3 linked regions of the Homo sapiens genome follow. The protein of the gene in region 2 purifies or fractionates together with the protein of the main gene of each other region. This does not show direct contact. Each region holds a gene or a part of one and is shown on either strand. Other genes may lie near its edges.

Region 1 (2,490 bases), on a different chromosome or scaffold from region 2:
GGAAGATGCGTACTTAACTGGTTAAAAAATTAAGTGGCCCTGGAAAGTTTTACCCCAAAGATACAACTTCTTCACTTATTTAGTTCAGTAATGAGGCTGAGGGACCCAATTTTCAAGTGTGCATTTGAGTGGGAAACTTTTAAACACCATATGTTGAAGTTTCATGAGCTCAGTGGAAACCTTAAGGTCAGAGTAAAAGAAACTGGCTGTAAACAGCCCTGCAGTGAAGAGACTGGGTCTTAGCACCTTCCACATTCACTCAGCGCCATCTCAGTCAGCGCCTGCCAGGGAAAGGGCATGGAGAGCTGGGACGGGTGCCTTCTCTTTTGCACCACTCCCTTTGCATATTACACAGTGCACTGGCTTGCCTTACAATCTAAGGTTCACATACAGGGGGTTTTCTATACTGCTTCCGGACATTTTTTGCAAAAGAACATCAGAACCAATGAAGGTACCATTTCAGGAGGAATCATTTTTGTTTGACTTCTGCTATATGTTGCCCAGCATTAGTCATTGTTTTGATAAAGACTAAAAGGCCTTTTCTCAACATTTGTGCTCTCCCAACCACCTGGGAAAGCAACCCTTCCACTCACAAGAGGTAACCTCAGATAGGGATATAGTATTCATTTAAGAAGGGGTAGCCCCCCAGCCTGATTTAAAAAGGCCCAAGTCAATGTATGGAACATGACAAGGGAAGTGAAAAACAATGGAGTACACAGTCTGCCTTGAAAAGCAGCCATTTGATGAACAGTCACAAATACAAAGAATTTGGACATTGTAACATAATTTCAGAACTTGCTGGTAAGAATAATTTGCATTCACACACAAGAGACATGAAATGCTTTTTAAAAGTCTGTGATACCAGATGTCCTTTAAACACTACACAGACCCATTTGCCACTTGAAATGACAAGAAGAAATCCTTTCCCTTAATCTTTTCAATTCCATGCAAACCGTAATTGAGTACAAGGCACCAAATTTTATGAATTGTATAAAATTAGTTCACAAAGCTTTATCAGTAAGTAGAACAAACTCCATTTCTCCCTCCCGGCCAGCCCACCCTCCTCCCACCCACCACCCGCCATCCCCGACCAAGTTTTCATTCTGCACTACTGTCGACCTCTCTAGGGCTTATGCTGGGGCATGCCCCACTGTCAGCCAATCCACCTCATTGGTTCTTCCCTTGTACTTGGATGAAGCTGTAAGCACAGCCAGAGTAGCAAACTCATACAATCATTGACTCTAGAAGCCTTGCCATTAAAAACAAAAATAAACTCTGCTATTGAGTCCATAGGACACATTAACACTTCTACAGTTTCCAATTTTATTCATGACATTTTAAGAGACATCTGGAAATTCTTTTTTTTTTTTTGTTTTTGTTTTTGTTTTTTTTTTAAGACAGAGTCTCGCTCTGTCGCCAGGCTGGAGTGCAGTGGCACGATCTCGGCTCACTGCCCCTTCTGCCTCCTGGGTTCCAGCGATTCTCCTGCCTCAGCCTCCCAAGTAGCTGGGACTACAGGCACGTGCCACCATGCCCAGCTAATTTTTGTATTTTTAGTAGAGACGGAGTTTCACCATGTTGGCCAGGATGATCTCAATCTCTTGACCTTGTGATCCGCCCTCCTCGGCCTCCCAAAGTGCTGGGATTACAGGCATGAGCCACCGCGCCCAGCCTGGAAATTCTTTACAGTGTAGCACTGCCCCCCAACCCTGCCCCATAACTCCGAGACTGAGGGGCTGGATCAAAGCTGGCAAGAGCTCTGTCCACCATTTAATAAGAGCTTCAGTTCTGCCAAGGGCATTCCTAACTATTTTTATACTAGCATGGATGTTCGTCTCAGAGGCAACCACAGATATGAGGGTCAGGCTAGATTGAGGTAAAAAAAAATCCTTTTTGAGGGCCTAGGTGCACTCATCTTGGCTGGCTACAGCAGCAAGTAAACATGCCAGCCAACTAACTACAAAGGGTTCCTGGAATGAGACTCTTAACTACTTGCCCTGGGAGAGAAGCAGGCCCATTAAGGTTCGGTTAGGAGACCTTGGGTTTGATTTGGCAGCATCTAGTCAGTTTTTACCTGGTTCTTATTTTCTTCTCTTTAGAATGATTCAATTTCAGATGCAACTGAGACATTCATCTATACCCAGTACGTAAATAAATTAAAGGCAAAGGGACATTTCCCTCACAATAGCCATTGGCTTATGCAGCAGGGAACTCTTCTTTAATAAAAATCTCCTTAAATACTAACGTCCTAAGTGTCCAGTGCTGCCGCCTCTGGGTACCTGAGGTGTCTGTAACTGCAGTGGGCACCTTTCACAAATGTGTAGCTCAGTGGAGACTCTGATGTTAGTTTCTTTTATTACTTTGATATATGCGTGCTCAGCTAAGTTAAGCACTTATTTCACAAAGTCCTTAATCTGCTTAATAAATCCTTATAATATTTGGTATAAAACTATTTTTAAAAATTAAATTGGAAGATCTTTGAATTTTCCA
Region 2 (3,831 bases):
TTCGAGACCAGCCTGGTGAATATGGTGAAACCCCATCTGTACTAAAAATACAAAAAAAAAATCAGCTGGGCGTGGTGGTGGGCACCTGTAATCGCAGCTACTTGCGAGTCTGAGGCGACAGCATCGCTTGAACCCAGGAGGCAGAGGTTGCTGTGAGCCGAGATCGCGTCATTGCACTCCAGCCTGAGCAACAAGAGTGAAACTCTGTCTCAAAAAAAAAAAAGAAAAAAGAAAAGAAAAGAAAAACGGAAACACAAGGCCTTTTGTGCAGAGGCAAACCCCCTCCACGATCCGATCCCAGGACGGTCCAGCAGGAAGGTCAGGGCCACGGACTTGGAAAGTGTGGGAGAGAAGGACACACTGGATAGCCCGCCGCCGGGCACTTCACTTATCAGTGCGTGGTTTGCTTTCCCAGCTGGCTTAGCTCCTGCCTGCAAAGTGATTGGAGTCCGGGTGGTACCTGGCCTCGAAAGATCTTTGCGTCCAAAGGGGGCCTTGAGGGACCCTTTGTTTTCACTTCGTAGCACAGCCAGACGGTATTCCGACGAGAAAGGATGGGTCTATTATAAAAGTTGTAGGAGAATGTGTCTCGATACATTCGCTCCACTGTGTTTCTGAAGACACAAGAGAGAAACCAGCCAATGTAGAGAGCACTCCTGGGGGCCCTCCGGGCTGATGTCCACTAAACACAGCCCCCTGGACGGCTCTAGGCCTCCCCCATCCCTCCCCTCCCCTGAGAATTTCGGCGGAGACTGTAGTGAGCCAAGATCGCGCCACTACACTCCAGCCTGGGCGACAAGAGCGAAATTCCGTCTCAAAAAAAAAGAGAGAGAGAGACAGAATAAAACTCTTCACCCCAAAATAACAGCTTTTAACCTTTCAGCTCAGTTCCTTCCTGACATTTCACCTCTGTATATTATTATTGTTAAATCATGGTAGAACCGAATTCTGAGGCCCAGGCCAGTCTTCTAAGTGCTGCGCGGGGGTGAGCTCATGTGAGGCTGCCCTAGGCTGGCAGGGGCCATTCCCGTCTTACAGAGGAGGGGCCAGACGCGCAGAGAGGCGGGGTAACCTGCCCAGGCCACAGAGCTGGGGACAAATGGAGTGGGGGCCCCTTTCCAGGCCAGCCCTGTCCAGTCTCTGTATCACTGGCCCTGCAGGAGGCAGCCATTGGGGACCGGGCTCTCTTCTTACTAAATTTTAAAATAACAACATTCCTCCTGATCATTGAGTTTTTTTCCCATATATTCCATGTTTTTTCTTTTGTTTTTGTTTTTTTTTCTTTCAAGACGAAGTTTTGCTCTTGTTGCCCAGGCTGGAGTGCAATGGGGCGACCTCAGCTCACTGCAAACTCCGCCTCCTGGGTTCAATGGATTCTCCTGTCTCAGACTCCCAAGTAGCTGCGATTACAGGCGCCCGCCACCACACCCAGCTAATTTTGCATTTTTAGTAGAGACAGGGTTTATCCATGCTGGTCAGGCTGGTCTTGAACTCCTGACCGCAGGCGATCCGCCCACCTCAGCCTCCCAAAGTGCTGGGATGACAGGTGTGAGCCACCGCACCCGGCCACTATATTCCATGTTACTGGTGTCATTTATAAACAGTGAATGCTGATAGTGGAGGAGGAGCGTGTGTTTGGGGTCATCTGCATCCTCCTCTGCCCACAGTGGAGACATCCTTGGAAGACATGATTTATCCTGTGCTTCAGAGACCATTCCCTCCCCACACCCTCTCCTAAGACTTGGTATTTAAGCAAAGTAAATCTTACAGAAAATCCATCAAAGCCCTGTGAACAAAATTCCACCTTGCTCTACTCATCCTTTGGTTCAATTCTCCCAGTTCCAGAGTTCAGGAATGGCGGGAAGCACACAGAGGGAGCACCCTCCCAGGGCCGGGAGCACCACCCCAGCCATGACTTTCAGGGGAGAGTCTCAGCAGGGGACCTGGGCTGGGACAGATGGGGGAGGCGGCCCATTCAGAAGCAGCAGTGGGGCGACAACACAGCAGGGCAAGGAGCCTGGCTGGGAGTAGGGGGTGCAGGGGAGTCAGAGGGGAGGGAGCCCAGGGCTGGGGCTGGGGCAGGGGAAGGCCAGGGCTGACGCCCAGCAGAGCCACCAGGCAAGAAGGGGCAGCAGAGGGGCCCAGTGGGTAGAGCGGGCAGCGGTACCTGAAGTGAGGCTTCATCCTTGGCCGGCTAGTCCCGACTAAGATCTTTGTCTGGAGCACCAGGGTTTCACTTTCTGCTCCAAGCTTCTGGTTTTAGGACAGCCCTCCCTAAAGTGACCTCCCAGGGCCTCGTAGTCATGGCCCCTCCCGCTTCCTGCTCAGGCGCTGGTGTAGGAGGCCCTGGGACGCTTTATCTTCCTCAGTCTCTCACCCTCTTTCTGGTTTTCTCTGGGGCCCTCCCCCTGGCAGAGGGACCTCTGATAAAGACAGGCCGCTCTGTGCGGCAGGACCCAAGGCAATTGCAAAGGGAAAGAGAAAGTCATTGCAGCCAGCGCCCGGGAGGTGGGTCCACACCAGGCTGAGCCAGCAGAGCACAAGCCCCTCCCCTGGTGGTCCCGCCCAGCTGGAGCCTCCTCTCCACCATCAAGACAGACAGGCTGATGCCTCCGCAGGGACTCCCGGATCCTGCCCTCGGGGATCATCCCAGAGACGGCCCCCACCCAGCGGCCATGGGGACAGGGAGGGAGAGTAAATGGCCAGGCGTCTGCCTCCCCCCAGGCCGTCACCCTCGGAGGCCACCGTGGGAGGGAGGGACAGCAGGTGGGTGTGGGCCTCAGATGTCCCACCGGGATGCCATGCGCGCCCCCACACTGAGCTCTTTCCTTCCTGCTTCTCCTTCTTCCCCATCTCCTGCCCGGAGATCCTCCGTGGTGGGCTGAACTTTTGCCCTCTCTTGTCCCCATGTTATGGAAGGGCAGCGGCTGGTGTCCCAGGCCAGCCTGTCTGGAGCCTCCCTGCGCGTCTCACAGCTCCCTTCCCCTGGTAGCGTGTTCCCATGGCGTGGTGACCTACAAATTACACAAGGGATGCATTTGCAAATGACACTTTATTTCTTGTTAAGGGTGACAGCCTGCAAGGTAGCCATCCAGCAGCCTGGGAAGAGCAGCCTCTGGTTAACACCAGAGACAGACATTTAGAAGCAGGAGGGGTTGGGGCAGGAGCTTTATGCTGAAGGGGTTAGCTAAACATACATATTGAACAGGCTACAGGAGGAGCTATGAATATTCATGTGGGTGGCTGCACTCCATGCTTATTGAACAAACATGCGTGTAACATATGATCCCAGGCGGGCACAGTGGCTCACACCTGTAATCCCAGCATTTTGGGAGGCCGAGGCAGGTGGATCATCTGAGGTCAGTGTCAGGCCGCTGAGCCAGAGCTAAGCCATTGTGACCCCTGTGAACTGCACATATACATCCAGATGGCCTGCAGCAGCCAAGAAGTCTGGAACAGCCAAAAAAACACAAAAGAAGTGAAACAGCCAGTTTCTCCCTTAACTGATTAACCAACCTTAAGACATTCCACCATTAGGACTTGTTCCTGCCCTACCCTAACTGATCAATCGACCTTATGACATTCTTCTTCTGGACAATGGGTCTCATGGTCTCCCACCATGCACCTTGTGACCCCCTCCCCTGCTGACAACAGATGACCGCCTTTGACTGTAACTTTCCACCGCCTACCCAAGTCCTATAAAGCTGCCCCTCTCCTATCTCCCTTCGCTGACTCTCTTTTCAGACTCAGCCCAGTTGCACCCAAGTGAATAAATGGCATTATTGCTTACACAAAGCCTGTTTAGGTGGTCTTCTATATGGACATGTATGA
Region 3 (3,731 bases), on a different chromosome or scaffold from region 2:
TTTTTAGCAGAGATGGGGTTTCATCATGATGGCCAGGCTGGTCTCGAAATCCTGACCTCAAGTCTCAGGTGATCCGTCTGCCTCAGCCTCCCAAAGTGCTGGGATTACAGGTGTGAGCCACCACGTCCAGCTTTTTTTTTTTTTTTTTAAACAATTTTTGTCAAGTTTTATCATTGCTTTCTTGGGAGAGGACTTGTTGAGCTCCTCACTCAAGCATTCCAAAAGCACGGCTCCTACATTTTATTTTGAACAGTTTTTTCTTTTTTCCCTATTCATAGTGTTCTAAAGATCAAGAATAAATATTTTAAAGAGCTACTTGCTGGACTTTGAAGCACCCACTGAGCAGATACGAATAACCCATGAAATTTAGAACTGCTGAAGAAAAAACTTTCCCAAAATCAGGATCAGAATTTGAGTATCAACATTTTCAGGATTCCTCAATATTGCTTCAACACAATACTTTCTATACTTACTCTTAAAAATTGGGTAAAATAGGTCCCCAGGCAAAGGCAAGATTAGGGACTAAAGGGACCATGCTCAATAAAGCCTGATGTTACCCTACCTGGGCTCGCTCCTCATCAAACTCCAGACAGCCCATACCATCCAGTCTTTGGAGATCAATCCAGCCTTTCCAGATAACACAGACTCCATTCAGAATCATGGGAGCCTTCAAATATACCTAAGACACAGAAAAGGATGAAAATAATTGAAAACCATCAGACACATGAAAATAAAAAGATTAAACTTACTTATATAAACTCTGTAGAAAAGATGAATAAAATTATGATTGACTGATTGATTGAGATGGAGTTTCGCTGTGCTCCCCAGGCTGGAATGCAGTGGCACAATCTCAGCTCACTGCAACCTCTGCCTCCCGGGTTCAAGCAATTCTCCCACCTCGGACTCCCCAGTAGCTGGGATTACAGGCGCTCACCATCATGCCTGGCTAATTTTTTTTTTTTTTTTTGTATTTTTAGTAGAGATGGGGTTTCACCATGTTGCCCAGGCTGGTGCTGAACTCCTGAGCTCAGGCAATCTGCCAGCCTTTGCCTCCAAAAGTGCTAGGATTACAGGCGTGAGCTACCATGCCCGGCCAGACACTTTGATTTTTGAATGTTGGGTAGAAAGATGGAAAACAATTGGAAGCCACCACCCTCTGAAGAGAGCATGCACTGCTTCCCTCAACGTGGGTTCCTGGAGCATGCAGGATCAGGCTGTTGATACTCCCCTCAGTTTTATAAGCTATCTCACAGATTCCTGATAATTAATCTTTTTTTCTTTTTATTTTTTTGTCTTGTTAGCCAGAGTTGATTTCTACTGCTTTTAACCAAAGAACTTTAACTGGTATAATATTTACTATTATATCACATTAAGTAGTATGTGGTTATCTTTAGGTGTCCATAAATAATTCGGAACAAAACACTGCTATCCTTTATATGGGACTTATGAAATTTAATTCAAGCTATTTCACAGTTTTTTATTTATTTATTTTTTACTTTTCCCAATAGGCAACAGTAAGGTGAATCAGTCTTTTAAATATAGTAGAAAAGTTTTAAGGTCACAGGGTTTGACTACATGTATCAATTATTTATCTAGAAACTGGTAAGTTAACCCAAAATCTACTTATTTCAACTCCCTGTTGAAATTCTTAAATACTATAACAAAATCAACTAAGACAAAAAGGCTAGGCACCAGTGGCTAATGCCTGTTATCCCAGTACTTTGGGAGGCCAAGGTGTGAGGATCATTTGAGGCCAGGAGTTCAAGACCTGCCTGGGCAACACAGAGAGACCTCACCTCTAAAAAGTAAAAAAATAAAAATAAAAAAATGAATAAACTTAACCAAGCATCTTGAATTCTTAATAAATGGAAATGTGTTTATTCCTTACACATAATACCTTTAGATGACAAAATTAGCCAGGCTTCATACTGTATCACATCCAACAAGTATATCTACTTACACATTAGAGAAATATCGAAAATAAGTATCCTAGGATATGGTAACATCTCAAGTCACTGACAAATTAAATATGTTCACTATACTTTATGCACTGCAGTTTAAAAAAGTACCAATAAATTTTAAAAAGATCTTCAAGATTCCTGAAACCAAAAGTATCTCTCATCTGGTGAACCTTCAGCTTCATGAGAAAATTCCTACATCCTGGCTAGGCGCGGTGGCTGATGCCTGTAATCCCGGCACTTTGGGAGGCCAAGTTGGGCGGATCACTTGAAGTCAGGAGTTTCAGACCAGCCTGGCCAACATGGCAAAACCCCATCTCTACTGAACATAACAAAAATTAGCCAGGCATGGTAGCGCACAGCTATAATCCCAGCTACTCGGGAGGCTGAGGCAAGAGAATCACTTGAACTCGGGAGGCAGAGATTGCAGTGAGCCGAGATAGTGCCACTGCACTCCAGCCTGGGTGACAGAGTGAGACTTGTCTCAAACAAAAAAAAGAGAGAGAAAAAAAAGAAAACTTCTGTTTTACACTTTTATTAACTTTTCTTCTGAAACAACAACAATAAAAAACAACAACAAAAAACAAAAACCCATTTCTGCACCATTCTTTTTCAAGTAAATAAATAACTCTAGAATAAAAATTGCTTTAGGTATACATCATACCCAAATTTAGATCATTTTTGATCACCAAATTAATTCTCATATTGGCTCAAAATACAATTGTTCCCAAGAGTAACTATCCACCCAGAAAGGACGGTGTTAATTCTATCATCCTGAGGTGAATATTTTATTGTGATAGAGATAAACAATATAAGAGAAATTTATTACAGTTTCTACAATCTTCCCACTCCTAATACCACACTAACCTAATAGTTACTTTTAAAAACATAATTTTAGGGCTGGGCACGGTGGCTCACGCTTGTAATCCCAGCACTTTGGGAGGCTGAGGCGGGTGGATCACAAGATCAGAAGTTCGAGACCAGCCTGGACAACAAAGTGAAACCCCGTCTCTACTAAAAATACAAAAATTAGCTGGGCATGGTGGCGGGTGCCTGTAATCCCAGGTACTTGGGAGGCTGAGACAGGAGAATCGCTTGAACCCAGGAGGCAGAGGTTGCAGTAAACTGAGATCGTGCCACTGCACTCCAGCCTGGGTGACAAAGCTAGACTCTGTCTCAAAAACAAATAAACAAACAAAACACATAATTTTAGGTCTTCTCTACCTTGTTTAACATGAGTTTCTGAATAAACCAGCATAGGTTAATATTTACTGCCTTGAACAAGGTATTTTTAATGCAGAGGAAGTGGGAATTCTTCAGTGAGTTTTCAAACCTGCAGATTATCAAATATATATTTATTAACGAGGCTTTTCATTTACCTGCACCAAATGTATTTCCTTTGGGAAATCCAGTGCTTTGTGAGCTAAAATCTGGCATTATTTATTACCTGTTTAATTATATAAAAATCTGTAAAACAGTTTCTCATTTTGAGGAAAAAGCTGGAAGCATCTTTTTTTTGAAACTCATTTCAGTAGTCTCTTCAGACTCTTGGATTCTTTTTGTTTTTAGAGATGTTTAATAACAATAACTGACTGCCAATAATTATAAACATGATAAAAAAATTACCTCTGAGATACCTTTAAAATAGTACTTATAGAATTTATACCCTCTGGCTGGCCGCAGCAGCTCATGCCTGTAATCCTAGCCCCTTAGGAGGCCAAGGCAGGAGGTCATGAGTTCAAGATCAGCTGGGACAACATGATGAAACCCTGT

What was found.
Region 1: the proteins of APOBEC3G (region 2) and USP49 purify together in Homo sapiens (affinity purification with western blotting; one study listed by BioGRID). This does not show direct contact.
Region 3: the proteins of APOBEC3G (region 2) and CBFB purify together in Homo sapiens (affinity purification with western blotting, with the first as the bait; one study listed by BioGRID). This does not show direct contact.

The regions. Positions count from the first base shown.
Region 1 is NC_000006.12:41,791,886-41,794,375, forward strand, and holds part of USP49 (ubiquitin carboxyl-terminal hydrolase 49), read right to left. Parts: 3' UTR 1-2,490. UniProt on the Homo sapiens protein: Deubiquitinase that plays a role in several cellular processes including transcriptional regulation, cell cycle progression or innate immunity.
Region 2 is NC_000022.11:39,075,715-39,079,545, reverse strand, and holds the start of APOBEC3G (DNA dC->dU-editing enzyme APOBEC-3G), read right to left. Parts: upstream 2,272-3,831; 5' UTR 2,185-2,271; coding exon 2,168-2,184; intron 615-2,167; coding exon 461-614; intron 1-460.
Region 3 is NC_000016.10:67,063,630-67,067,360, reverse strand, and holds part of CBFB (core-binding factor subunit beta), read right to left. Parts: intron 680-3,731; coding exon 563-679; intron 1-562. UniProt on the Homo sapiens protein: Forms the heterodimeric complex core-binding factor (CBF) with RUNX family proteins (RUNX1, RUNX2, and RUNX3).